6 separate regions of the Homo sapiens genome follow, and all the other regions are linked to region 5. Evidence: fine-mapped expression QTL. A gene starts in region 5. Each other region holds a variant in brackets. All regions are shown on one strand. Distances are from middle to middle.

The links. PIP is the estimated chance that this variant, and not a neighbour inherited with it, causes the effect.
Region 1: its variant is fine-mapped to the expression of MIR646HG in testis (GTEx, PIP above 0.99).
Region 2: its variant is fine-mapped to the expression of MIR646HG in whole blood (INTERVAL, PIP above 0.99).
Region 3: its variant is fine-mapped to the expression of MIR646HG in whole blood (INTERVAL, PIP 0.98).
Region 4: its variant is fine-mapped to the expression of MIR646HG in whole blood (TOPMed, PIP above 0.99).
Region 6: its variant is fine-mapped to the expression of MIR646HG in whole blood (TOPMed, PIP above 0.99).

What each region holds. Positions count from the first base shown.
Region 1 is chr20:60,085,482-60,090,407 of GRCh38, reverse strand. LOC729296 (a long non-coding RNA gene) reads right to left here and starts at 2,722. Exons shown (of 5, transcript NR_109918.1): 1 at 2,408-2,722; 2 at 1,687-1,811. The variant C/G (reference allele first, on the strand shown) is at 2,394.
Region 2 is chr20:60,052,639-60,057,564 of GRCh38, reverse strand. LINC02910 (long intergenic non-protein coding RNA 2910) reads right to left here and starts at 1,640. Exons shown (of 4, transcript NR_161293.1): 1 at 1,557-1,640. The variant C/T (reference allele first, on the strand shown) is at 2,680.
Region 3 is chr20:60,066,889-60,071,814 of GRCh38, reverse strand. LINC02910 (long intergenic non-protein coding RNA 2910) reads right to left here. Exons shown (of 4, transcript NR_161293.1): 3 at 1,772-1,982; 4 at 1-827. Among named protein-coding and RNA genes, the nearest start is that of LINC02910, 13 kb to the right of the region's middle. The variant A/C (reference allele first, on the strand shown) is at 2,639.
Region 4 is chr20:60,319,442-60,324,367 of GRCh38, reverse strand. MIR646HG (MIR646 host gene) reads right to left here. Exons shown (of 5, transcript NR_046099.1): 5 at 2,112-3,735. Among named protein-coding and RNA genes, the nearest start is that of MIR646, 13 kb to the right of the region's middle. The variant T/C (reference allele first, on the strand shown) is at 2,711.
Region 5 is chr20:60,135,731-60,140,656 of GRCh38, reverse strand. It overlaps MIR646HG (MIR646 host gene), which reads right to left and starts at 2,165. Exons shown (of 5, transcript NR_046099.1): 1 at 2,013-2,165.
Region 6 is chr20:60,283,278-60,288,203 of GRCh38, reverse strand. All of the region lies in intron 3 of MIR646HG (MIR646 host gene), which reads right to left. LOC105372698 (a long non-coding RNA gene) reads right to left here. Exons shown (of 2, transcript NR_171673.1): 2 at 930-3,727. Among named protein-coding and RNA genes, the nearest start is that of MIR646, 23 kb to the left of the region's middle. The variant C/T (reference allele first, on the strand shown) is at 2,937.

The DNA.
Region 1 (4,926 bases), 50 kb after region 5:
TCTTTGATGAAGATTCAGCAAATGTTAGGAGAATTGCCAATATACACCCATTCTGATAAACTCAGGCCATCCTCAGGAGCAGAGGAGAATGTTTCCAAGTCAGTGAAAATCCCCAAGAAGAGGAGGAGGATGAAGGGCAGGGACTCTGCCTTCAGGGTCGATTTGCTGGGGCACCTGGCTTCTCTCTTTGTGACCTTGAGTAATTAATTAATACCTGACTGGGGCTCCATTTTCTCATCTGTGACTTGAGGATAAAGACAGTGCCCATGTACCCTTTTGGGAGGAGCAAATTTAAAATGCACTTAAGATGCTTCACACAGTCAACGGAAATTGTTAATTGCATAGTAAACATTAGCAATACATAAGTCCATTCTTATTGATGATAACAGTGCGTGTCTTCTATCAGGCCAGTGAGCACTTTCTTTTTGTTCAGTCTAGTTTCTGTGAAAACGGTGAGGCTGGTCAAGTCTAGTGGCCCTTTTTGCACCTTTTTTGCACCTTTTTGCATTTCTCCCCCTTTCCTCAGATTCCAGGCCTATGACACACTGTTGTCCAGTCCCTAAGAAATGCAACCATCAATGAATTTGTTCCTTGTAAGATACGTGTGGCTAAGTGCAAGCATTTCATTTTAAAAAGGGCATCTAAGAAGAGCTGTGTGGTGGACAACGGGGCACCATCGAAGCTGAGCGGGGGTGGCAGCAGGAGCACTCACACGTTCCTGCCATTGTAGATTGTAGGGCTGCTGACTGGGGAAGGAAGGAGAGCCCCCCTCTCGTTTTACAGGAGAGGGTGGGAGATGAGGTCCACAGAAGGAAGTGGATTGCTCAAGGTCAGTTAACAAATTAACGCGAGATGTGGGCACAGGACCAGTTTCACCTGAGAGCATCGCATGCCCTTCCCACATCATCCCATTGCCTGGGTGACTCCTACTGTGAGGAAGTGAACAATATCTGTTAAGACTCTTCTGCTGCTACAGCGGCTCAGGCCTGTAATCCCAGCACTTTGGGAGGCTGAGGTGGGCGGATCACAAGGTCAGGAGCTCAAGACCAGTCTGGCCAACATGGTGAAACCCCGTCTCTACTAAAAATACAAAAATTAGCTGGGCATGGTGGCGTGTGCCTGTAATCCCAGCTACTCAGGAGTCTGAGGCAGGAGAATTGCTCGAATCAGGACCTGAAAGGCGGAGGTTGCAGTGAGCTGAAATTGCACCACTGCACTCCAGCCTGGGCTACAGAGCAAGACTCCATCAAAAAAAAAAAAAAAAAAAAAAAAAAAGACTCTTCTGTTACAGGTGATAAAATCCCATGCAAACTGGCTACTGGCTTCTGTTTAAAAAGGAAGTTATTTGCTTGCATATCAGCAAAGTTAGGGAGAGGAGCTCTGCCTTCAGAACCAGCCTTGTTCTGGTAGCATTGCAGGGACGCTGCTCTGCCTCAGCTCCTTGTCACCATGTCACAACATGGAAGTGGACAGAGAGAGGCAGCCCCTACTCAATTCAACCAAAACACTCAAAACACTCAGAGCTCAGTCCCATTGCTCATGATTGGCTTCATTAACCCACATGCCCTACCCTGAATCAGTGGCTGCAAAGAGGGCAGTGCGGGCCTTTGATTAACAGGCCTGGGTCACCTTCTGGCCATATGGAGGGTCCATGAGTCAAGGTCTATTCAGGGAAACAGAACCCACCTAGGTCTTCCTTGCCTTCCAGCTTTTGGGTTGGTCAAGCTGGGGTGGAGAAGGCCTTTTGTTTCCAACCTCCCCACCTCATTGGCCTCTCTGCTCTTCCATGGCTGGTGTCATAACCTCTAGAACTAAAGAAGAAATGAGAGGAGGGTGACATTGCCAGGACACAGACGCCAAGGCCATCCTGCTGAAGGTGGAGTCAAGTCAGGGGTGTGCTGGCTGGAGCGGGGAAGAAAGGGGGAGGGGCTGTGCCACGGGAGTGGTGAGGGAAACACATCAGTGCACGAGACCCCCATCCCAGGCCACGGGAGAGAGGAGCAAACACCCTGGCTTCTGCCCTCCTCCCTCCTTCCGTCAGTGTTCCACGTCTTCCCAGAGGCCTGTCCTGGCAGCACCCACCCACCCACCCACCCACACAGAGGGCTTGCCCAGGGCGAGAACTGCACGCAGAGGTCTGGTAGCCGCTGTAGGACCCAAGGCTCTCCTTGCTCCTCCATGGCTCTGAGCTCCCCTCTCTAGGCATACTCAGGTCAGAAAAGCAGTGAGAGCTAAACCTGCTGCCCTGTGGTAGCTCCCCATCCCGGATGGGCTGGCTGTAGCCCCGAGCTTTATTCCTCCCTTAATCCCTGCAGCCAAGAGCAAGGCTGTCACCACAGGAAGCTGTCCCTGTCCCAAGAAAAGAGACAGACTCAGCGGTTCAGAGCAGGGCT[C/G]TGCAGCCTCATACCTGGGTTTGTCTCAGATCTGTCACTTTCTCATCAAGTGAACATGAGTAAGATATTAAACAGCACTGGGCCTCAGCTTCCCCGCGGGTAAAATGGGCGGCAGAATACAGCACCGGGCCTCGGCTTTCCCGCGGGTAAAACGGGCGGCAGGATACGGCATCGGGCCTCGGCGTCTCCGCGGGTAAAACGGGCGGCAGGATACGGCGCCGGGCCTCGGCTTCCTCGCGGGTAAAACGGGCGGCAGGATACGGCGCCGGGCCTCGACTTTCCCGCGGGTAAAACGGCCACAGGATACGGCGCCGGGCCTCGGCTTCCCCGCGGGCAAAACGGGCGGCACGATACGGCGCCGGGCCTCGGCTTCCTCGCGGGTAAAACGGGCGGCAGGATACGGCGCCGGGCCTCGGCTTCCCCGCGGGCAAAACGGGCGGCAGGATGCGGCGCCGGGCCTCGGCTTCCCCGCGGGCAAAACGGGCGGCAGGGTACGGCATCGGGCCTCGGCTTCCCCGCGGGCAAAACGGGCGGCAGGATGCGGCGCCGGGCCTCGGCGTCCCCGCGGGCAAAATGGGAGGCAGAATATCTGCGGCGCTGCTGCAAGGCCCGATGAGATAACCAATATCAGCTCCGACCTTGGCACCCTAGCAAAGAGGGTGCCCACAGCAAGGAAGGGCCATTCTCATCTGAACACACTTGGTCCAGGAGGAAGCATGGAGCCATCCAGGGAAGTCCTAAAAACCAGGTGTGCCCTCATTTATTCAATCTCATCATAAAATCCCATTAAATCAGTCAACAAATATCAACTGAGGACCTACCTACTAGGTGCTACAGCCTGCCCCAGGCTACACACTAGGTTACGTAAGTGACCACCAGGACAACAGAAATAACACTCCAGCATCACAGCTCTTCATGACTGATCCCTTTTTATGAGTCAAAACAAGCCTGGGGGGATGGTTGAGGTACTGTGAAAATGCATTATTACTGCCCCAGGCATCCAATTACATATATAAGTTGCATGTTCTAATTAAATTTTCCTAATGTAATGTCGGCTTTGCCCGCTGCTATTAATTATTGAAGCCACGTTCAGCTTAGGTGGATTTTCCTCTCCCGCCTCACCTTCCATTCACTCTTCACTCCTGGCTGCCCTTCGGCTGGCTGCAAACTCCCTGAGGATGGGTCCTCTTTGAGCAAAGGCACCCACCGTGAGGCTCCCCTGTTGGACAGAGGAGGAGTCACCCATAGGAGGAGAAGCAAGCATCACCAGGCTGCTTCGTAACGAACACGTTAAGCACAATGATGGTAATGGAAGGTACTCCAAAACATCAGTGCACTTCCCTGCACTCTCTCCCAAGAGGCTTGTTTGCTCCCTTCTCACCATCACCCACTCCCTGACCTAAAAAGGTGGTAACTACTCCCTCAGAAGGTTGAAGACTGTGGTCAGATCCCAAGACGCAAGCATGCAGGTGGATCTGGCAGAGGGACGTTCCCAAGCCCCTGAAATCAGACTTTAAAATGTGCTGTGGAGGAAGGAAAGGTGGGGACCGGAGAAAGAACATGGAACCAGGCCTGGAGCTTTTTCTGCTGGTGGCCATCCTGGGAGCTGCCCCAAAGCAGCAAGCCTAGCCCTTCGCAAAGGCTCATCCTGCAGCAATGCACCTGCCATGCCCCAGACTCTGCCATGGCTCTCACCCACAACCAGCCCTCCTTTTGTGGTAAGCATCCAAGAGCTGCATAAGACCGATATGTTCCTGAGCCCTGGACCGTGCTTGAGGTGTGCCAACAAGCATAGCTGGAATGAATTCCTATTCACAACATTAGGAAGAAAGACATGCCACATTCTTTATTTTCTTTAAGCCAAAGTTCATCTGCAAATAACCGCCACTATCCAAGAGACAGCAAATTCAACTGCATTCATTATTACTCCCCCGACCCCATGGTATCTTTAAGGGCCTGGACTCACACGTAGTGGACACCCCACAGAGATGGGGCCACGAGGGCGGGACCTCAGCCCAAGTCTTCTACTCTACATGCTGGTCCCCTGAGCTCAAGCTGTCACTCAGCTCCAGGGAAAGGGCTCAGGGCGCCCCTAGCTGCAGTCCATTCTAGTACAGAGTGACCCACAGGACCCTCTCAGCTGCTCTCCAGGCCATGGGAAATAGTGCCTAACTGCCCAACCACCCACAGCAGCTTCTCATCAGGCATGCTGCAGCCTAGCCCCATTCCTGTCCTCAGCAAGAGAGGACGCCCACTGCCATGGTGTCTGCCAATTCTTACTTTTGCAAAAGACAAGTCACTAAAACCTCCGTTTTCTAGACACAGAGGCTTAGACCTGCAAAATGAAAGCTTGGCTGCCATCCATATTGGGAGTGGAAGTAGGGAAACACCAACCAAGAGGTAAAGTCTTCTTCAGCATACGACTGTATCCAAACACCTCATATAGGGGCATCTCACCTGCCACATGCAGACACTTTTGCTCTCTGCCCCCAAATGAATCTGAAACACACTGGGAACAAGAGTGGCTCCAACA
Region 2 (4,926 bases), 83 kb after region 5:
TGGCCAGTTGATAAAAGGCACCGGGGGTTATTTTCCAGTCTCTCTGAGGCTCTTGTTTTGTGGGAGGAACTCATCACCACCTTTATCTTCACAAGGGCTGCTTGGCAGACCTGTCCCATAAGTAGTGCAACTTGGGAAGATCCTAGGCCTCTTGTGGGTAGGGCAGTCATCCAGTCCTGCATCTTATGACTTCACACGTTACAAACGTTAACTTGCTAAACACTCAATGTGAAACCTAGGAGTAAGGGACAATTATCTTTACTATCTACAAACAAGGATGTTCAGGCACAGAGAGGCTCAGTACATTGTGCAAAGTCACACAGCTACAGAGTTGTGAAGCCGAGATTGGAACTCAAGCAATAAGGCACTTTGATGGCAGGCACCTTAATGGGGGGTGGGGGAACACCCTTTACCAACAACCATGCAAATGGCCCAGGTGCTCCTGTGACCCCTGATCCCAGGGGCTCCACCAGAGCACCAGAGAGAGAGGGATGTGGGAAGAGCAGAGGACAGAAGAGGACACGTGCATCTAACCACTCGGAGGACAGGAGAAGGCACCCTAACCTTCTGAGCTGCCATCTTCCAATCAGGAGGAGGGGAGCACTGGATACATAATCTCAAGGCTTTCCCTACAGTTCTCTCAACAGGACAGACAGGCAGGGGTGCACAGTGGTTAGAGCACAGGCTTTTTGGTCAGACAGAACTGGGTTAAAGATCAGACACGTCCACTCACTCTCAATGAGTCCATATCTGTAAGCCTAAGCTTCCGTCCTCACACATGTTGATAAAAGAAAAAGAAAAAAAAAGGCCAAGTGCAAAGCTTTTAGCATTGTTTCTGGTTCAGGGTATGGACTTAATACTGTTTTCTATCATTATAACCACACTAAAGGCTCTGAGAAGTCCTGCAGGAAGGAAAACTACTTGTCTTTATCTCAGCCATCCCCAAGCTAGCTGCCCACAGAGCCACCATGGAGCCCACAGCTCTGTCACCCCACAGGGCCCATGTGCCTGGCCCATTCATGTTCCCTCACACGGGAGCCTCAGGCCCCAGTGGAAACAGACTCAGGAGACAAACCCAGGCCTCCTGCTCCCAGCTCCCCACTCTGTCCTTCTGCTTCTACATCCAACTACCCCCAAAGCAGTTTCTACAATCCATAAACAAAAGAATTCAGAGACAATTCTCCAGGGCTCCCAAGACGACATATTTCATCTGTGGCTTCTACAGTGCTTATTTGTCAGTTTTACAGACCAGAGGCAATTAAGAGTCTAAGGCCGAGAAGGCTGTTTTTAATAATTCTGTCATTATTCTCAATTTTCAGCACCACCACACATGAAAAACCCATTTCCAATTCCCTTAAAGGTGTTAAATGGTTTTTGCACTGTGTTGCAAAAGTTTGCCGTCCGCCAAACTGCTACAAAGTGGGCTTGTAGCGTCCGGTCCTGAGCTGTGGGAACGACTTGGTCGGGGCTGATCCGCTGGAGCCCAGCTCTTTCCCCAAGCGTTCAATTCCCAGCACATGCCGCGTGGGTCACTGTGGATTTCAGGGTGGACTCACCGCGCTGCTGGGTGTTGCAGTCCACGCGATTTCACAAGACTCCATGCAGGACACCTCCACCCGGCCCAGGCTCAGGCAGGATATGAACAGGAAACCACTGTTTCCTGCCGATCAACACCCAGGAACTGATGAAGTAACCCAGTGCCCAGCCCCTCTGACAGCCACAGAGCCAAGAAGAGGGAAGTGAGGTGGCATCCAAGGCAGCCCCTGAAAGAACTAAGCAAGGCAAGTTCAAGGGGTTCAGGGCTCTGCAGCAGCTGATGGGGAGCAGGGAGGAGCATTCCGTTTTCAGGGCATTGAAAGTCCTTGAAAGGAGAAAATTTTATAAGGAATGACAAGGCCTGGATGCAGAAGGTGGGAGACCCCTGCCCTTGATAACCGTCATAGTTACCAATGACAACTATGATAAAGAGATGACTTTCTGTGGCTCCCACTTGCTGCCCTCTGTGGTTCCAGGCACATCACAGAGAACTCTTCATTTTCATGAGGCCCCATAAGGACATCCCTATTACTATGATCCTTATCAATATCCTGATGTTACAAATGAGGGAACCAGGACACAGAGACGCTGAGGAACTTGTCTGAAGTTACATGGTGGAGACATAGCCTGGGACGCAGCAGTGAGAGGGACAGACGAGCCCTGCCCCTGTGCACCAAGCCATCTGCTGGGGACGCAGAAATCAAACAGCTCGTGGCTGCCCTTGTGCCCAGCGCTGTGGGCATGAGCGAGCTGCTTTGAAGAGACAGCGTGGTGACCTGCCCTGCTGGCCCAGGCAGCATCACACGGCAAGAAGGCGGGCTTTGAAGGGTTTTAAACAGAGTCGTGTTCCCACGTCTGCAGTGAGAGGGCTGCAAGCCTTTGTGTTTTTCACACGGTGTTACACAGCGTTGGGGTCCACGGACCTGCCTCGGAAGCTGCTCATGGGCAAATGGACGACCACGGGTGGGGAAGGAAATTTCCCCCAAACACACACATGCTTCACCCAGAGCAGCCAAGCTGTTTGTGTGTTTGTGTGTATTCACGTGTGTATGTGTGTGTGTGTGTCTTATGCCTAATGGTTCATTGAGTTTAAGGATCTCTCAGCTCCCTTGCAGCACAAATGTTTCATAATTTGGTGGTTAG[C/T]GCGCAGTGACCAGGCAATACAGGTTCATCAAAATGCACCAATGAGACAGAGACAGGAGAGGATGTTTTGGCAGCAGACAGACATCCAGGAGGCCTAGCACACCCCCATCCCCCGGCCCCAACCTCAGAGAGATAATCAGGGGAGCAAAGGGCATTAGTATGAAACGACCAAAGAGACTTAGCGAGCAACGTCAGACTCCCTGCAACACGCGTGCTGATGGGACAGAGGGGGAGTTATTTTTATACTTCAGAAATAACCAAGCATTCTGCATGCCCAAAGCCAGTTTGGGTTTTAAATACCTTTCATAATTTTTCTGACTATGGAGGTAATACATCCTCAGGGCATAAAATTTAGAAATTATAGAAGAGTATTTTTAAAAATCCAACCATTGAGCAATAACCATTATAAAAATCTTACTGTTTTCCTTTCTTGTCATTTATCTAGGCTCATACAGATATTTGGGGCTTTTTTCACAAAACTAGGAAAATGTTAAAATATATATTCTAATATTGTCTCGATTTTATTATTAGATTTATCATAACCATAAAAGATTTGAACACTTTTAACGACAGCGTATTATTCCATTTCCATGGAATTACTGTAATGAATCTCCTACTGTTGGGTTTCAGTTGCTTCCAAATTTGAATGTAAATAATTTGGGGGCAGTTCTCACTCCATCAATGGCAGACTAGGTTGAATACAGCCGAGGTTTTGCAGGCACACACTATGCCCAAATTAAAGCCACAGCCCAGGATGTTGGCCATGGAGAGATGATGCTTTCAACTGTATCAACTCTTGAAGCTGGTGAACCATGGCTTCTCCCCTTCAGGCGCTGGCAGACCTTCTCCTCACACTCTTGGCTCTTTGCTGGGCTGACAACTCCCTACTTGCCCTGCAGGCCTTCCCTGAGCTCTGGGGTCTTCTTTCTGCCCCCTTCCATAGCTCCCCGTGGCTGCCACATCTCAGCACTGACATCCTACGTGGCTCTTTGTCCACACCTAGCTCCCTAGACCATGCACCCCTTGTGAGCTAGGTCTTTGTCTTCCACATGGAAGTTCTCACTAAACACTTGAATAAAGGAATGAATAAACAAATGAATGAACAAACAATCTAACAAAGAAGGAGCACATGGGCTGACCTTGCAGGGCTCTCACGCCAAATCCTGGAGGCGCCTTCTGCAGCCGTTTCTGTCTCCCAGCCAGTCCACCTGTTGCTCGGGCTGCTACTCAGAAGTGGCGCGTACAGGAAGCACGTGCTTGTTTGTGCTGGCCCCATGTTTGTTTGCATTTAGGATCACGGAGTTTACTCAATTAATAAATAGAGTGGAGAGGGGGTACTGCCTCTGTTTGGCAGACAAAACAAACAGAGGAGAGGGGAAGATGTCCAGGGCAGATTTCTCCCGCTTTCAATCTTAAATAAATAACCAGTTTCCCGATGCTAATTTTTCCTCTTTATGATCTTGTCTATCTGTGCACAGACGATGAGGTCTGATCCCTTGTGGTCCCAAATGCCACGTGGCAGTGAGCTTCCAGGCCACGTCCCTATTGCGCCAGAAGAGCCCATGTGTGTCTTTGTGAGCATGTTCATAGTTAACCTTGTTGATCATTACATGAACGTGTTTAATCCTTACCACAAGCCTGGGAGATAGGAACTCTTACTGTCCAAATTGCACAGATGGGCAAGCCGAGACACAGAGAGGTAATGTAACTTGCTCAAGACCACACAGCCAGCAATGGCAGAGCCTGGATTTTAATCCTGACAATCTAACTTCAAAACCTATACCTGTGATCACCAGCTAGTCCTCAATAGCCAATGTGCTGATTTCTAAAGAAATTCCAGCACATTCCCGCCATATATAAGCAGCCTGTTATTCCCAGGGAATATAAATGCCTTGGGTTTAATTTAATGAAAGCTGTTATTGGAAAAGATACACCAAGATAATTAATTTCTTAAACAATGGAAATGAGGCTGCGGTTGTGTACAATTTTGTTTTTAACTGGAGGTCTCCCACCTCTGGAAGAGGGTATGCTAGAAAGCTGAGAATCCCAGGAAGAGAACTGGTAGGTGAGTCTGGAGGCTGCATGAGCCTCAGGGTCATGGAAGGTGTGCCAGTGTGTGGGTGCCAGACCCAGAAGAGGGTGCCAAGATCACCTGGAGCAGAGCATCCAGGGAGCTGGGCAAAGCTCTCAGAGATCTTTCCCTGCTTTGAAATGAGACAACCAATCCAGGGTATAAGTCCATGCTGG
Region 3 (4,926 bases), 69 kb after region 5:
ATAAAAGAATACATGCAAAAGGCTAATGGGCACGTTCAAGGTCATTATCAATCAAATAAAAATTAAATATCATTTTTTGCCTATCAGATTGAACAAGAATTAAAATGTAGTTGGAAACCAGTCATAGTAAGCATTTAGGAAAATGGGCATTTTCACACAGTCTTGGAGGGAAAGTAAAGTGAGCATCATTTCCGGAAGGTAGTTTGACATTATTGTATAAAAATGTAAAATGTTCATGCCTTTGAACCCAGCAATACAATTTGGGGAATTTATTCTAAGGAGATCATTTCAGAAGTGGGAAAAATGCATGCCTGAGAAAACTTTCTATTCCCACCAGTGAGTGACTAAGAAAAATGCAGTATGTGCTTGAATAAGTGCTCTGCAGAAATTAAACACGATGGTGAAATATATTGATTGATTGGTAATATTACCTTTGACATTTTCATTAAGCAAAAAAGGCAGGTGCCAGCATATAATGTGATGTCAATTACATAAAATTATACACATGTATCTTTATTTGTATGTATATATGTCAAAGGATTTTTCACTCTAGCTCTTTCCTAAAACCATCGTAGCCCCCAAAGTTTGCATGGTTCATTCTATCTCATTGTCGAGAAGATTGTCTCAAAACAGACAACACCTGGAGCTCTTTTAGCACATGGTAGTCATTATCAGCATCTGAAAGTACCTGTGTGTTTCTTCGTTTTCTCAATGACTGCTGTGCAGCCTCTCCCATGAGAAGAGACACCATGGAGGTCAGGGCTGGCTGGTCCACCTGCAGAGCCTAGCACGGACCTGGCCCAAAGTCCCTGCTTGGTAAATACCTGCTGGATGAATGCACGGTGCTGTGAGACCAGTGTTTTTCACAGCACACTCTCTAGAAGAAATGCCAACCTGTGTTATGGACTAAGGTGTCCCACGGGCAAGTAGGTTTTGGAAACATGGCATTGGATCAAGCCAATCCAAGGGTTTATTTGGTGCAGAACTTTGCAGAGCCTTTAATACCCAAATGCACATTGTGACTGTCCAAGAGTTTCCCAGCTCTCTTGACTGCAGAAGTCCCTCTATCTTCAGCCCCTTGGAGCGTCTTGTGTCATGGGACAGTGTGGGATGGACTATGTTCAGAAGAATATTCAGCAATGCATTAAATTGGGGGCCGAGATTAGAGCTGATCTCCAATTTGTCATTGTACTGTCTGTGTTGTTTGAAGTGTTGACACTGAGTGAGCACATATCATTTCATAAATATATCAGTTTTTCAAGATAAAAGAATAAACATTAAAAATGCACTTATTGTCTGAATCTCAAAATCAAGTTTATTTTCCAAAACCATGAATTGCACTGAAGTTGTTTTGAAAGAAGAAAGGCTGGTTTGAACCAAATAGAAACACAGAAAGTAGCAGAACCAGGTCTTCTGTATTCAAATTCTACTTTCACCATATACTTAATGAGCATCTTTGGGGAAATCATGCAAGATCATAGTCTGTAAAACGAACCCCCTCGTAAGTTGTGAGGATTCAGACTAAAAATCTAATAAGCCCCAATAAATACTAGCTTTTTCTATATTAGCACTGATAAATCTAAATTAAGTTGTGCCATCTAAATATGTTTGCATTCCACTTATATCAGTCTGCTCAAGTCATGGTCTCCTATACCCGAACTCTCCAGAGCCTAGAGCTGCCTCCATTTGCTAAGAAGTCAACAGACAAAGGTTTCGGGTGGGTCCCATGTTTACTCCTGTTCACTGTCAGAAAGTTGTGTGCTGGACTCACCTTCAGCCTGTGGCTGTGCCCGTAGCCGTCTGCCTGCCAATAAGGGCTGTGCTGAAACAGGGCAACCATCAGAACCCTGATGGGTTCTTCCAGGGCTGGCCCCAGAAGAGCCTCTGCTGGGACGAATGCTGAGAAGCCAGTTCTCACAGCTGGGTGTTCCTTTTGTTTATGGAGTGGTTATTGCAGTAACATCTGGATTCCTTAACCAACACTACGGAAACGCAAAGATTATGTTTAGCTGCCTGGTGTATTTCAAGGGACGTAGCTTTTATTCTGCATGATCAGGAAGTAATTAGCAGCTTAAACTTGATGCCTTCACTCAGCGTTGATTCCACGCCTCTCTTTCAGCAAGGAAAGCACTGGAATTCATAATTAGTAAATTCCCAGTGTCTACCCCAAATCCTTAGGGTAGGTGCAAACAGAAGACCTTTCTGTCCTTCCTTTGAGTAATTTACAACTTGAGCTGCCTTTTTCATGGGGCCCCATTTCACTGGGAAAGGTGAAATGTAAAAACTAACCAGCAGCCTGATTATTCAGCAACCTTTACCAAAACCCAGTCATGGCTACTGTCCACCAAGCAGCGATGGGATATATCTGGGGGTGGGGAAGTGGGGAGAATCAACCAGGAAGAGAGATTGAGCTTCAAGCGTAGCGTGGAATGGAAGAATTCAGGCTTGAGATTGGATTAATCTGTCTGGATCCTATTTCCACTGCGTGACCTCCATTTCCATCTAGAATTTGTGCTCTCCTCATCTTCAAAGTGGGGGAAGTGACAGTACTGACCTTACCATGCTATTTGGGAGGTCAATAAGATAGCACACACAAGAGGCTTTGCACCAAGCTGGGCACAGAGTGTCACACTTACCT[A/C]GTGGCTTTACTTCTGAGGAACGTGGCACATGGCATTTCCACTGAACAGATAAGCACGGGCTCAGCAACTGGGCCGTTGGAGGGTTGGGAGGGAAGCCCTGCAGCCTTCTGGGAGAGTTCCCTGTGTCAGCTCTGGGTCTGAGCAGGCACTCCTCCACCTTGTGATTATTAACTGAATGTTTGCACACACATTTCTCTTCATATGTAATGGTCCATGGTTTTATACATTTAAAAAATATTTTTAAAAACAAAGCTCAGGGAGCTGAAGTGACTTGCCCAAGGTCACACAGAGAACTGGAAGGCAACGTGCATTTGGAACCCGTTTCTCGAAGTGTCACCACTTCTCATGGCAGCCCCAGGCACAGTCTCCTCCTGGGTTGGAATTCTCCATTCCCACACATCACTTTCTTTCTACATGTGCACACACAGGCACACAACACACACATGCACATGTACACGCAAACACACACGTGTGCACACACACACATGCATGCATACACAAATGCCAGCACACAGTAAGGGTTTAGTAATGGCAGCACCGATTTCATTGCTGACATAATGACCCAAGGACAGTCTTAACAGAACGATTGCCTCATCTGTGTGATGGGGACAAACCTGGGAAGCACCTTCAGGACTCCGTGGAGATTAAATGACAGAGGGCACTCACAACACTTAGAATAGGGCCTGGTACCTAACGCAGGCACAATTAATGGTTGTTATTATTATTGCTATTGTTAATATTAGACTTCTTTTGACTTATTTTCAAACCAAGACATGTCAAATTCTCTCCATCTCACTCTTTGGAATCTGCGTGTTTTCTCTGAGCAGAGAAGAAATCTTGCCAAGCAATGCTTTTGTTCCTGGTCTGTAGAAAACCCAGCCCTAAGCTGGGCTTTGCACCTCTTCAGCAAAGCCTTCTCTGCCTAAGTCGGGACCCCATGCCCCTCCTCATACAAAAGCTGCTACCAACCAGTGAGACCATCCCGAGGTAATACAGCTCCTGAGAACCGCCAGATCCCCAAAGTGGATTCTTCCAGCTTTCTCCAAATAGAAAGGTTTTTAACATGTTTTAAAACTGAAACTCGTTAGTTTTAAACCCCAAAGTGTGATTGTACACATTTATTTCCCTGGAATTATTTTTGAGATCGGAAAAAATACAGTTTTCCTTCTTGAGGAAAATCAAATGACATGTGCACTGACTTTCTCCAAGTAACACAACCTCAGCCCTATAATTAATATCACCACCTTCCACAGCCTCATAATTAAACATGAGATGCACAGGACTGGGAGGAAGTCACGGAAAGGCAGGAGGTAAATCACCAGGCTGGTCTCTGCCACCCATTTCTTGGGAGCCCATAGGAAGGAGGGAGTTGGCATGGGGAACAAGGGTGGCCCTGAAGCAGGCTGGAGGTCACCTGCGCCCACGCAATCATTGATTTCCCTTGGTGGCCCATTGTCCCAGGGCTGTCTGGAGCATGAGGCCAGCAGTGCCTACGAATGGCTGTGGAGTCTTTGCGCGCTGCTTGACATGTACACTGCCGGGCCGACCAAGACGCAGACGCTCCAGCCCATGGGCCAACCTAACCTGAAAGGAGATGGAGGGTTTGTCCTGAGTCTATGCCTGCTGTTCTCACTGAACATGAGTTTCGAGAAACACCTATGCAGGGATGATCTGAAGGAAACTGCAGAGTTTATTCCGTTGGTGTTCTCCCTGCTTGTCATCTCCTCCTGCCACGGACCTCGGGCTGTGTGGCTCTTCCCCCTCCCCCCCTCCTCCCAGAAATGCCCACCCAGCATCCCTCCTCCTGGCAGTGCCCACCCAGCGTCCCTCCTCCCAGTAGTACATACCCTCCTCCCAGCAGCACCCACTCAGCATCCCTCCTACCCTCTCCAGCTGTGCAGTTCTCCTCCCTCCCCACTCTTCCTAGTGTCTTTCCTGCCTCCTCTGTTCCCCACTCTCCTGCAGGTGGTGGGAGCCACAGGACTGGTCAGGCAAATGGGCCAAGAACAGAAGTGAGCCTGTGGCTGCCAGGCTGATAACAGCTAGTGTGTCTCCATTTTCTCCTCTTTGGCAAACCTCATAGGCCACATATTCCAGGTAAGGAGACCAGGAGGTGGAGAAGGTTCTTTAGGTGGAGTGGGGAGAGCAGAGGTCCATGCCCACCTGCTCTGGCTGAGTCATGTGATCAAGAAATAAACCTTTTTGGCTGGGCGCAGTGGCTCACACCTGTAATCCCAGCACTTTGGGAGACCGAGGTGGGGGGATCACCTGAGGTTAGGAGTTTGAG
Region 4 (4,926 bases), 180 kb before region 5:
ACCATGCGATCAATCCTGAAAATGAGTGTCCTGTGTTGACTTTGTCCTGCCAAATAGCATGCCCACCCAGAACCTCAGAATGTGGGTTTATTTAGAAATAGAATCTTTGCAGATGTAATTTAGTTAAGATGAAGTCATCCTGGATTAAGGTGGTCTCTGATCCAATGACTGGCATCCTTTTACAAAGAATAAAATTTGGACACAGAGCATCTCAGAAGGAAGATGACGTAAAGGAAGGTAGGTGAGAAGGTCAAGTGAGGACGGAAGCAGAGTACGGAGTGATGCATCCATAAGCCAAGGAACCCCAAGGATTGCTGCAGCCACCAGAAGCCAGAAGAGAGGCCAAGAAGTATCCTTTCCTGGAGCTTTTGGGGAGCTTGGTCCTGTTGATACCTTGATTTAAGATATATGACCCCCAGGGCCAGGTGTGGTGGCTTACGCCTGTAATCCCAGCACTTAGGGAGGCCAAGGGGGGGCAGATCACCTGAGGTCGGGAGTTTGAGACCAGCCTGACCAAAATGGAGAAACCTGTCTCTGCTAAAAATACAAAATTAGCTGGGCGTGGTGGCACATGCCTGTAATCCCAGCTACTCGGGAGGCTGAGGCAAGAGAATTGCTTGAACCCAGGAGGCAGAGGTTGCGGTGAGCCGAGATCATGCCGTTGCACTCCAGCCTGGACAACAAGAGCGAATCTCCATCTCAAACAAATAAAAAAAAGTTTTCTGACCCCCAGAACTATAAGAGAATGAATTCCTCTGGTTTTAAGCCACCTAGTTAGTGGCAATGTGTTATGGCAGCTCCGGGTAGCTAGTGCAGTGGGACACAGTGGTATGTGGATATGCAGGCATTTGGGAATCACAGTGTAGGTCACGTAGCCAGTAAGTGTCAGAATGGGAATCTGAGCCCAGATCTACACCCTCCGCAAGCCCAAGTCCTTAAGTGTTTGACTGTGTATCTTCTTAGAGAGGAGTGTTGAAGGAGAGGACTTGCGTCGTGCACTGAAAGTCAACAATATTCCAAGGTGGAGGCCGGCAAATTCTCTCTCAGTCTGGGACATTAAGGACACCTTGAGTTGCTTGGTCAAGTCTACATGGCACAGATGGGACCATCACTGTGGTGCCAATGAGCCCCACCTCCAAGTTCAGGGCACCTCACAACTTCCCACATCAAGTTCCCATCCAGAACTTCCCAGAGAACAAGAAGCCACCATGTTTCCACCTACAAGAGTTAGCTGCTGGGCAAAGTAGACCTCAAAGATGAGCAGAGGGCTGCCACTGAGACCGTCCTGGCACTGCTGGAACTGCTCCCAGGGGTTGTGAACCCCACAACCTCCTTTCCATGGAGTTCATTTTAAAAATTATATGTTAACCTTCATTAAAAAAAAAAAATCAGAGACAGTGCTTCTTTCTTAGTTTCTTTCTTCCTTCCTGTTTTGTTCCAGAAGACTTGGCTCTGGAGGTTGTTACTTAGTTTGGAAGGCAAGAGGAAGGTTAATTAGCTTTTGTGACCCAAGAGCTCGCAGGGAAGATGTCAAGCAATTCCCTAATTGCTCCTCAAAGTTCGATACGGTTGGAGGGGCAAGGTCCGGGAGAGAAGATGCTAAGCTGGTTGTTAGGTTGACTATGAATTCCACCCAGCATGGTGCGGGGGACATTTGCAGGGCATTGTTCTCTGTGAGGAGTCCAGATAAATAATTCATTCCTCTCTTGGGTCCCATCAGCTGGTGGCCTCCAGCCCAGCAAGCCATTGTGGATTTCAGGGCCAACCCGGGGCATTTCTTGGGGCTGAGACTCCCACTCAGTCATAGAGAGAATCCAGCCCCTACATCTGCATGGGTTGCATTCTGCTTCCTGAGCTCCTGAAAAACATAAACAGTGCATTTCTCTGCTTGGCAAAGGATACCAAGGCAGAGACTCAAGATATGTCAGCCATGGTCTTCCAAGTCCTCAAACCTCCAGACTGTGGTCTGCAAATGTGCCTCACCTGGGAGCTCCTTAGACAGAATGCAGAATCTCTGGCCCACCCCAGACAGGCTGAATCAGTATCTTTGGCATGGGGTCCAGCACTATGCATGTTCACAGGCTCTCCAGGTATTTTTTTTTTTTTTTTTTGAGATAGAGTTTCACTCTTGTTGCCCAGGCTGGAGCACAATGGCACGATCTCAGTTCACTGCAACCTCTGCCTCCTAGATTCAAGTGACTGTCCTGCCTCAGCCTCCCAAGTAGCTGGGATTACAGGCACTCACCACCACACCTGGCTAAATTTTGTACTTTTTAATAGACATAGGGTTTCTCTACTAAAAGAGCCAGGCTGGTCTTGAACTTCTGACCTCAGGTGATCCACGCGCCTCAGCCTCCCAAAGTGCTGTGATTACAGGCGTGAGCCACTGTGCCTAGCCTTATCCAGATAATTCTGATGCACACTAAGGTTTGACCAGTGCCCCTTAGGACCACAGCCCTTCTTGACTGTTAAAAACCTAGCAGAGAATAAATCCATTCTCTGCCCTCTCCCCCAGACTCTCAGTCAACCAAGACACCAGCTGGGGGATTCCGATGAGAAGCAAAGCCTGCATTAGATTCTCTTGCAGAAACTGATACTCACTGGTGATTTTCTTCAGCAGTTCCTGAAATCACTGAACAGGTGGATTTTTTCTTCCTGACTTGGCAGTATATCTTCCTCGATTCACTTACTGTTTAGAACATTTTGCTTG[T/C]TATGATTGCAAAGTCATTGTGGCAGGCAAAAATGCATTGCATGTCATTTTTCCTCATCTGCACATGGCTCTCAGGACATAAAGAGGATGTTAAAAAAAAAAAAAAAAAAAAAAGCAGGACACAAAGAATGGCCCTGCCACCATCTCCCTCAGTGGAGTCCTCTCTCTGGCCCCGGGAAGCCTCGCCAGGGGTGTTTCCCTTCACTGGGGCTATAAAATTTGCATCCTATTCATAATTACATGAAATCCCCCAAATGCACACTGGGGACAGCTGCTCCAGGGTCACATTGCCAAGGATGGCACAGAGCTAGCAACTACACCAAAAAGTCAAGCCATGGTCAGCTTGGGTGGAAAGCACCATGGGGTGAACATATTCTCCATGTGATGAGAAGTCACCTCTCCAGTCATATTCTAAGGCAAGAGTGGGAGCTGCCCATCACAGCCCAGATGTTGACCACTAGGGAGAGAAAGGGGCTTGATTCAGATGCGGTTCGTTTGGGGACACAGTGACAAGGCAGGAGCTCCTGGGGTCGCAGGGGTCGGGGAGAGGGGATAGGGTGTCTTTAGCTGATTGAAATCTCTTCTCATTTGACTGCAGGTGAAGTAGGATCAGAGGTGGATTCACTGTGAGGCCCTCATTTCCATGGGGGCTCCTTCCAAGACTAGGAGGGGCCCCAGTCATGTGTCCCTGTGGCCATAGCTTTGCAAAACTTGCTGATGGGGAGAGATTTTCACTGCAGTTGACTTCAGGCCACCATCTCTTTCTGCTCCAACTTCCCATCCCTAGGGTTTCCCTCACCTCAGGAGCTGTTAGAGGGGCTGCGGCTCTTCTGGAATGCACTTATTTAGGCTTGAGTGGCAGATTTGTACGAAGCCACTTTCACATCGAGTGCCATTGTGCTAGGTGTCCTGGGTCAGTGATGTCTCCAGGAACAACCCTGCTGCCCATGGAAATAGTGCTCCCAGTGTCCTGCCAGGATCCCGGGGCCAGATGAGCTTCTCATTGGTGCCCAGCACCAGAGGGTCTGGTGGAAGAGGAAAAGGAGCAAGGTTTGAAATGTATGGAGCCAGAAGCCAGTCTAAGAAAAATCTTCTTATCATCAGACACGCTATTATCAGGAGAGGATTCAGTTCTCATTATTACCTAGTCAAAATAAATGTTCTCCCTTGTAAGGAATAATTTGTAATGCATATACACAAATGTAAATGAATCTTTTTTTTTTATGGGATGAAAAAGAATCTAAGGACGGGTGCAGTGGCTCATGCCTGTAATCCCAGCACTTTGGGAGGCCGAGGTGGGTGGATCACTTGAGGCCAGGATTTTGAGACCAGCCTGGCCAACGTGGTGAAATCCTGCCACTACTAAAAATGCAAAAATTAGCTGGGTGTTGTGTGTACACCTGTAATCCCAGCTACTCAGCTACTTGGGTGGCTGAGGCACAAGAATCACTTGAACCCTGGAGGTAGAGGTTGCAGTGAGCTGATATTGCTCCACTGCACTCCAGGCTGGGTGACAGAGCAAGACTGTCTCAAAAAAAGAAAGAAAAAGAATACATCAAAATTCTTGTGTCTATAGGACAAAACCTTACCCAATGCCACATGAGTCTGTCTGTGTGACCATCTGCACGTTGCATGCCACCAACTATCCATAACTTTAAAAAAAAGCTTTATCTGACCACACTAGAGGAATTATCTTTCTGTCCTGTTAAAAGCAATACCAAACATTTTTGTCATATGAAAAGGCAAAATGTATGCAAGAGAAAAATGTAGGAAAACGTACAATACAATCAGGTAACTATTAAAATATTCAATACTGTATAGTTTTGTGACGTACAGAAATTTAGCAGCTTTTAAGAATTTAAATAAACCCCATTCCTAATTTTATATGTGTCATTTTGTATGTTGTTTTCTTTAATTTTGAGCCCCACACAGCCTGGATCTGAAAGGGCTCATTCATCCATGCGTTTGTTCAGCAGATGCTTACGGAGCCACCACTGCAGGCACAGGCAGCAACGCAGCCAGAAAGAAAGCTGGTGCTGGTGTCAAGGGGTGAACAGCCAGGTGGGGGACATGATAGTCAGCATGTAAACAATCACATTCACGGGAAGCTGCAGAGCTGCAAGGTGGAGGGAGCAACAGAACCGCAAGGAGGAAGGGGAAAGGGTACTTGCAATGGGCTGGTCAGGAGGACCTCTGAGGAGCTGATGCTTAAGCAG
Region 5 (4,926 bases):
ACTCAGGGCCTCAATCCCGTGAACGGCCCACGTTCCACAGAACAGGCCAGGGGCTCAGATGTTTATCATAGACACAGAATCAATCTCCGGGTTGGCCACTCCTGGATTCCCTAGCACAGAACACACATTTAGGCGCATCTGCCATACAGGGTCATTCTAAGGGTATGCTTATTACTATCAGGTGCATTTACCCTACATTCCCCCCTCATGAACATTAAAATGTTGAGGTTTCTTGATGGAAATTTTTTGTCCATTCGTAATTTTGGTTTAATCATTGTTAGTTTTTGATCAAGCTCTGTGGGGCCTCTGTGGCATGTACAGTGCTGTGCTGGACAAGGCAGGGGACTAACAGAGTAACACACGTCCCCATCCCCTGCAGAGCCGGAGCCCTGCCCAGGAGAGAGAGAGGGTGTAGACAGCCTCATGACGATGCAGAATGGGGAACAACTGTGTCATAGCAAAGGACCACGCATGATGTTAGGGGTGTTTAAAGGGCAGAAAAGAAGTCTGTTCCAAGAGTCAGGGACCAGGGAGGCTTCACACAGGAGCTGGACACCAGAGCAGCTTCTGCTAGGGCCTCCTGGGAGACATAGTGATCTGGCCTCTCCAGGAGAATGCAATGTCCCACCTGACAACCATGCAAAGAAATGAATGGTGAAACAGACAGCAGGTCCCCTTTGCCTATTACACTAGCATTAAAATGTAGTGGACATACCTAGTGCTGGCAACAGTGTGATGAAATTGGCATTCTCATCTATTTCTGGAAGCATCTGGCAAACTGCCTACTGGGAAGATAAGCTTTTGGAAATCATCAGTCAACACGCGTGAAGCGCTATTGTCGATGTTTGTGTCATCGGCCCAGCAATCAGACATGTGGAAATCTGTCCTAACGGATGTTGTTGTTAGCAAAAGAAAAACAATATTCTCCACTGGGTTCATTTCCCAACAGCTGGAAGCAATACAGGCATCAGAGAATGGCCACCTGAATGAATACTAACTGCTCAGTGTTGAGTAGCCCTTAAAATAATTTTTCTGAAGAAATTCAGCCACCTGCAAACAAAAATCTTAAGGTATGTTAAATTAAAAATCATGTCTCAGAATTTTACTGAGGACAATTGCAAATACTCAACAAGTAATAAACCTTGGGCAAAGATACTGGAAGGAATTACAAAATAATAGTGCTATCATTAAGATGGTGTGGTTGGTTGTGGTTTTTATTACATATTTTCCCTGCTTTTCAAATGCGCTAAGATGTTCTTACAGATAACAGTTGGAGAATGCAAAATATTAGAGAGAGAGAAATGAGAATGAAAGGTCACCTCCTTATCGTTGAAGTGGTAATAAAAGTAGTCACAGGACCTTCTCATTGCCAGCAGCACTAGCCCTCATGTGAACTTTATTTTCATTCTTTTCTGTTGCTGAAAATTGGTATCCAAGGGCAGTTAAGTCTCAGGGGCATGGCTTGACCTCAGGCTGACCTCAGCCCAGCACCAGGCTGGATTTCTGAAGCTAAGCAACAGGTTCTGAGGTAGGTCAGAGAGGGTGGTCACAGCCTCACTTAAAGGAGAGCAAACTTGCTAAATAGATGGCGAGAACAAGCCACCTGCGGTGCACAAGCCGCATCCCAGGCTCGTGGTTAGACCATCCTTTAGCGAGGAGGTCAAAGAGCGAAGGAAAAATCCGCGAATTCATCCAAGTGCAGAAACCCAAGATGAGTGTCCTTGGGCTGACCTGCGCTCATTAGAATACTAAAGAACTGGGTGGAGATTTACGATGCTAACGAGACATGCGATGTGTGTACTAGCATGCACAACCACAGCACATGTGCCACCAGGAGACAGCCCAGAACATGCTTCACGGCAACACCCCTTCCCAGCCCTTCATGAATAATCATGTAAGACCCCCATAAAGGGGGTTTCCCCAGTGTCGGCCAGCACTGCCTCGCCTTTGAGCGGCCGCTCCGATCCGCTGGCAGAGTGCGCTTTCGCTGTGCGATCAACTCCCTTGCTTACCTTTACTTTGGACGTGCTCTCAAGTTCTTTTGTGTGGCGAAGTCAAGACCCTGAACCGGTCCACCAGCAACAGTTCTTTCGGAGTCCCTCAACCACAGGCCCTGAAAGCCGCTGAGTTAAGTCTTTAAACTGCGGGAGAGCCTGGGAGCATCTGAAACGCAAAAGGACTCCCAGTGGATAGGGAGGCAGCACCCTGACCGGAACCGGAAGAGGTTTGCCGGTGAGCCTGAGTCTCCACACACAGTGATCCGGGCACCCGGGCTGCCGTGTGGCAGGTGAAACCGCGTGTGGTGTGGATGTTTCTCCAGCTGTGTTCTGTCGAGCCCCTAAAAGTCTGGCCTGCATTGGAAGGGCCTCCCCAGTGTCCTCGTTTCTGTTCAAACAGAAAAGTTCTTATTTTCTGTATTTGTGGTTTTTGCTTCCTCATATAATTTCGGTTGCACAAAGCTAAAAAATATTTGAAAACCTCTACTTAATCGTATAACTAAATGCAACATTATCTTTTGCTTATTTAATAACTATTTTAATATTTATTTTCTATTTATATTAATAGTGATAATAAAAATATAGCTTGGAGTGAGAGAAAAGCTTTCCTCTCTGTTAACTATCACTGTATCATTTAACTACCACTAGCTATTCCTCACAACGGTTTCTAAAGTGTAAGCACCTGCCACCTCATTAGCCTCTAAGCTCCACAGTGCCAGGGACTCTTTGCCTTAGTCTCTGCTATGTGCTCAGAATACCCAGCACATACTAGGTTTGAACAAAATGCATTTTGGAGAGTGGATGCTGCTGCCACCTGGTGACAGCATACCCACATTTCATGCTTAGCACTTTGATTACTTAATGAAATTCATGAGGAATGGAATCAGAAAACCTAAGACATGCATCTGTGTGATAGCAATCTCACTTTCCTCACTTAGCTTTTTCTGTTTCCCTACTCTGCACAGATTGGAGACATCTGAGTTTTCTCTGCCCCCATCACCTGCACCTGCCCTGGTGGCATGCACTTGCACCTCCTCTGTCTGGTATTAGGTTGGTGCAAAAGTAATTTCTGTTTTTGCCATTACAACTGCATAAACTGCGATTACTTTTGCACCAACCTAATAATAGGGCTTGCCCCTCCAGAGGATAGAATCTTTGCTTGTCACCTTAGAACTTCTCACACAGAGCACTGCATTCATCAAACCCTGGTCTCAGCCATCCTCGGGGCACATGGAAGGTCATGCCCATAAATCAATGCCTCAGCCAACATCTGGTCTCCCCTTCTGCCATTCCCTGTGTCCCTGCCCTGGCACCAGGCATTTGCAGGTGCAGGGGGCAACATCATTTAGTTAGCTTCATCTGGGCAGGGAGGAGCATTATTAAACATGAGAGATAGCTGTTGGCTCATGGAAAAGATTAGTTTTAAGCTATTTAAGGCAAAGCAATAAAGGATGTGGTTTCCTCCTCTGACATGCTTCCTAATTTGTAGATTCATATGACATCACACTGGATTACAAAGCCACATTACTCTGATTGGTAATATTATGCTATCCTAATTCAGTTTGTATAATTATTTAATTTTTTAGGACTGCTCTCAAATATTAACATTGTGTTCGGTAGAGGCCAGAAAAAATTGGGAACATGCATCCACACACGTGGAGAAGCTTAATTGCTAGAATAATGCAGGGCAATTATTGTAATGAGAACAAAGCCTCATGTCTGGCATACACATGTGACTGTGTCCAGCCCAACTTCCACTGAAGTGACAGTCACTGGACTCGAAGCTCCTCAAGGACAGGGGCTGTGTCGCCTTCACAGACATGACTCATTGCCGGTGCTCAATCAGGGTTGAGCTGACTTGACTTGAAGCCAAATAAGGACAAAGAAAGGTCAGGCAGTCCTGAAAAAGCCAAGGGTCTGAGAGACAACACTCGCTGTTGTCCTCGCTGTTTAATTCTCTGAGGTCCATTAGGAAGTAGGTAGGAGCCATGTCATCATGGCCACTTGGGCCAATCGTCTGCACAGATGGGGAAGGCATCTGCCCCCACAGTGAACACTAGGCTTATCTGCCTCCTAAATCTCTCTCCAGGCTAACTTCCATGGTTATTCAAATCCCTCTATTAAATATTCAGACCTCCAGCCCCTGGACCTCTATGGTCCTCCTGACAAAGCTAGAGCTGTGATTTCTCTGCACCTCCATTCTTCATCTGCAAAATGGGGCCATAGAGTCTACTCCACTGGGTTGAGAAGCTACTGGAAACCAGGCTGCCAAGTGCCTGATGCAGTATCTGTCTTCAGCTGGCCTCCACACAAAGACAGTTTCCTCTTTTAAATTATATCTAGACTTTTAATCATTTTTTTACATTTTTATGGGTACACAGTAGGTGTATATATTTATGGGGAACATGAGATGTTTTGATACAGGCATGCAATGCACCATAATCACACTATGGAAAATGGAGTATCCATCTCCTCAAGCATTTGTCCTTTGTGTTACAAACAATCCAATTATATTCTTAGCTATTTTTAAATGTACAATTAAATTATCGTTGACTCTACTCACCCTATTGTACTATCAAACACTAGGTCTTATTCATCCCCATGTCCGTCCTCCTCACCCCCGCAACACTTCCCAGCCTCTAGTATCCATCCTTCTACCCTCTATCTCCATGAGTTCAATTGTTTGGATTTTTGGATCCCACAAATAAGTGAGAACATGTGATGTTTGTCTTTCTGTGCCTGGTTTATTTCACTTAAGATGATGACCTCCAATTCCATCCCTGTTGTTGCAAATGACAGGTTCTTATTCTTTTTTATGGCTGAATAGTACTCCATTGTGTAAAGTACCACATTTTGTCCTCTTATTGCTTTTCGTCACTGCTGAGAGCCAGTCCTATCTGCTGCTTTTCCAGGGTTTCCTAGGAAGATG
Region 6 (4,926 bases), 150 kb before region 5:
TTTTATGTTAAAAAAAGCTATATTCTGCTTCTAATTTAATTATTGCAAGTTTTTATTAGAACTAGTGACAGAATTCATAACTAGAATTTGAGACACCTTTTTATCCTTCAAGGGACATAGAGTGCAGGGCCACATTTGTCACCAGAATGAGCCTTTTGTTACACTTACAGGCATTATGGTAATTGGAAGGTGATGGCTTATTGGATGGAAAACATGGGTAGGTACTGCTGGCCGATTCTGTTATCTCTGCCGAAATACCCTCTTCCAGAAACCTGAGAGCACAGTGCTGCTGCAAAGACCCCGAAAGGTGGCCCCAGTGGGGACAGGTCAGTGGCCGCCTAATCCCCAGAACAGGAGCAGCCGCGATGGGCACTGCACCTAGAGAGATACCAGGCCCCCAGTTGCTGGGCCATGCTGAGGTTTAGTCACTGGACAAAAGATCTAAATGTGAAATCCCAGGCCAGAAGCAGGACCCGACTGGGGGCCACAGAAGCAGAGAGTGGGGTCAGAGGGAGAACTTCTGGAATGGACTTCAGTAAGAAGTTCCAAACACCAGTGCTGCAAATATCCTGGGGCCAGGAATCCCGTGGTTGGCCTAAGGGGCCAGAGACAGGGAGACAGGCAAGCTACAACCACAGCCAGTCCCACAACCCAGAAACAGTGACTCATTCACTCTTTCCTTTATTCTTCTCTCTCCTCCTTCCTCCCTCCTTCCACCTCCACTTCTTCACTCTCTGTCTCTCAGCTTTCTTCCTCCTTCTCTCCCTCTGTCCATACCTCCTCCTCCTCCTTAACCTCCTCCTCCTTTCCTCTCCCTCCCTCTAATCCTCCTCCCGTTAACAGTGGAGGGTCTTGACTACGAGTTTTCCAAGTCATTGGCATTTTGAACAAAGTATTGGACAAAATGCACAAACAAAGCAATAAAAGAATGAAGCAACAAAACCACAGATTTATTGAAATGAAAGTACATTCCACAAAGTGGGAGCAGTCTCGACCAAGTGGCTCAAGATCACAGGTTACAAAATTTTCTGGGGTTTAAATACCTTCTAGAGGTGTCCCATTGGTTACTTGGTTTACATTCTATGTAAATGAAGGAGTGGCCTGTGACCAGTCTGATTGGTTTCAGAAGGTGACCAATCGGAGGCTGAAGTGAACTTAGAAAGTTATACCCTACGCAAACATCTGACTGGTTGTGGGAGGGGACCAATCAGAGGCTGAAGTAAAGTTACAAAGTTACACCCCTATGCAAATGAAAACTAGGCTCGTGTCCACTCTGATTGGTTGTGAGAGGGAAGCCATCAGAGGTACTTTCCATTTCTCATCTGCCATGCAGAAAGGGGGTGGGGATTGCAAAGGGAGTAGCTTCTATTCTTTTGTTATGTGGAAAGTTGGGTTTTTCCTTTTGATTTAGTTCTAGGAAGTCAATGTGAATTGGCCTTAGGTTCCCTGCCCCCAGTACCTATTTTCCTGCCTCATTTCTCCCCCATGAGAGATGTGATCCCCATAAAGTCTTCACGGCAGGCAGAGAGACTGACGGTCTTTCTTCTGTAACTGCTTCATCCTGAATTGGGTGCAGTCCCTACCTATTGGGGATCACAGAAATCCTGCCCTGCTCTGTCTAGTGGAGAGAGGCTAGCTTCTTGATGTCCAGGGGTGGTGTCTTTACCTGGAAGCCTTGCTGCATCATTATCTGCAGCTTGATGGTCTCCAGGCAAGAGGAAATGAATTTGGTTAAGAGATTTAACAAACAACATCCGAAAACCAAGGGAAGTATCATCATTAATGAAGGGCCAGCTAGAGGAAGGAGTCATGAACCCCAAACTTAGCATTTTTGATCAGGAGTGCCATGACTTGGACAGCTGTTGTCATATATCAGAGGCCCAGTCAGCTAATTTTTCTGGGTAGCATTCCTTACAAATCCTGATTGGTTGACATAAAAGCAGCATTCTTCTTCTAGGAAAAAGACATAAGCCACCTTTTTTAGCATTAGGGAGATCCAGTCCCCTCCTATTTTATAAAGTGACTGCTGCCAAGAAGTCTATCTGATTTTGTAAGGTGACGATACTTTAGGCAATGCCATCCAAGCTTTTCATAAAATCCTTGGACAAGCATTGATAATAGGATAGGGAAGTTGCAAGCCCGCTAACCTCTGTTCCTATTCCAGCTGTTACGCCTAGCCCTACCAAAAGGGTATGAGTTGACTGGTTAATCTGTGCCTGGCAGTTGCAGTCAAAGGTAAAATGAGGAATTGGTTATTGGGAGCTATATTAATTGCCAGGGCTAAATAAACAAGTGTACAGGTTCCAGTCCAGTTGGCTGGTAAACATAAGTAGGAACCAGTTCCACGCAGGAAAAAAAGCTCCTTGTTGTTCAAGACAAAAATTGTTTTCTATGATGAACATGTGGGTTAGCTTGCCATTTTTGTTTTTCCAAGTAGTTAAGGTCCCTGCTAAGATGGCCCCAGTTAAAGGCTGGAAAGGACCTTGGGAAGTATCCCGAGTTGCCCCAGCAGTTCTGTTTTCCGAATGGAGTTAGTTACACTTAGTGTCCTCCAACAATCACCCAAAGCTATTTTCATACCGGCAAATCAAAAGGCAACCAGATATCTGAGGATCAGTACAGTCTTCCCAATGGAAAATGTGAACACAGCTAGTGGGCCTACCTTGACAGTACTTAGACTGTATATCCTTTAAAGTGTCCTTAACTCAGAATGATTTCCATGAAAACCATACAGGTTTTCTAAATAATGCTGATTGGGTAACTGCATAGCTTACATGATTATGTGAGGGATTAATTTCCAGGGTGCAGTTGTGTCGATGACTTTTCAAGGTTTCCAGGGCCTGACAAAAATTGTGGCTTCTCTTAATATAAAGTGGCACCTGGAATTTTAGTTCTGTGTACATTGATATTGGCCACCAAATGGGTTTCTAATGGGA[C/T]GTAACCCCAGAAAGTTTGTTCTGATGGGACTGGAGGAGGTTTACTACTCATACTGTCATTCTAACCCTTGTCATTTACATAATTTTGAAGTCATATAAGTCATCCAGGCTCATTAATTTGAAGGGAGTTCCACCCTTATAGTTAGGAATGATAGGTTATTTTCTCAAAGGCCCAAGATTGGGCTGGGATTGAGATGGCAAAGTATTGGGATGATGATGGAGATAAACAAAGCCAACAGTCCTCTGCCAGAGTGGGGCTGGTGGTATTTAACATTCTTTCCATTAAATGTAAAGTTCTTAATAAATACCCAGAATCCATTAACTGATGGAGAGCTAAAGAGAAGCTGTTGTAAAATAAAGTTGATTCCCATATGCCTGGTCCCAGTATACACAGGCTATGGGTGACTATTATGGAACACAAAAAATACATATTTGTTATTTTGTTCTATAGAATGGGAACTTTGGGGTAGGGGTGGTGATGGATACCTATCCTGTCAGGAATGATTGTTACAAAAATGGATTACAACATTTTACTTTGCTTAATTATTAGAAAGGAAGTGATTCTATCTGTTTGGAGGAAAGAAATTAATTGTAAAAATATAACAATGGCTACTATTATCCAGCCTACAGCAACTATGCAACAAAGACACCAAGGAAATTTGGGAAGTATTTACTTATCTTTTGGCTGTCTTTTAAACAGGTACTTCAGGTCTTCCACAGGTTCATAGGTGTACTGGCTGATGACAGCTTCAGATTCCAAGTCCAGGGCTTCAGGTGTCTCAGGCTTGACCCTGGAAAGATGTATCCAACCATCTAATCCTATTACTTTGACCACAGAAGGCATGACCAGTCCCACTGAAAATGGTCCCTTCCATTTGGTTTGCAATTTTTGAGCAGGTGATCCCTCCTTCCATGTTTCAACAAGTACATTATCTCCTGGCCTGATTTTGGGTTGCTGGTTAGTTCCTGGTGTCGGCAGTCTTTGAGTTCCAAACTTTTGTATAGCCTGCTGAAATTGTCCTAGGCTAACTAAGTATTTTATTAGCCTGGCCATTTCTGGATCAGTAATAAATCATTAGTTTAATATGGCCTTCCATATAACATTTCATGTAGGTTCATATTAATTTTTGCTCTAGGGGAACTATGGATCCTTAAGAGGGCTATGGGCAGATAAGCTGACCCAAGTTTGTGATGTTTCCTGACATAGCTTAGCTAAAACCTGTTTTAGAGTTTGATTAGCTCTTTCCACTTTTCTGGAGGATTGAGGTCTCCATGATGAATGTAAATGGTATTTGATTCCGAGAGCCTTAGCAACCCCTTGAGCTTTCTAGGAGACAAAAGACAGGCTGTTATCACTTTGGCAGCTTTAGGGTACCCCATACTGAGGGATTATTTCCTTTAAGAGAATCTTTATAACTTCATTAGCCTTCTCTGTTCCGGTAAGGTAAGTTTCAACCCAGCCAATAAATAATAAAGGTGTCTACTAGTACTAGCAAAAACTTGTATCCTTTGCAAGCTAGCATATGGGTGAAGTATAATTACCAGTTTTCCTTTTTAACTTTAGCCAATATGTTCACACACAGAATCTCTTTTATAATTAATTTTTAATAAACCTTACACAACTTGTTCAAGCCTCTAGATTTTTCCTATCTCACTTAAAACAATCCTTTAACAAAACTTAGGCAAAAATCCACATTCTCATGACTTTTATCAAATGTATATTCTACTTTTCCTACACAAGTCCTCTTCATGACTTACACAGACCATCTATGACATGCTTGGACTCTCTGACTTGTCCTAAACATCCCTTGTTTTAAACAACCAGGCATTTTACTTTAGGACAAGCATTTACCATACAAGATCCTTTCTCATACAAAGTTATTGTCTCTACAACCTTTCCTACCAAAAACACATCTTCATACACATAATGTTCTTCACATCTCTCTCCCCTATTTACTGGTTCCTTCCTACCTTTTTTAATAAATAACCC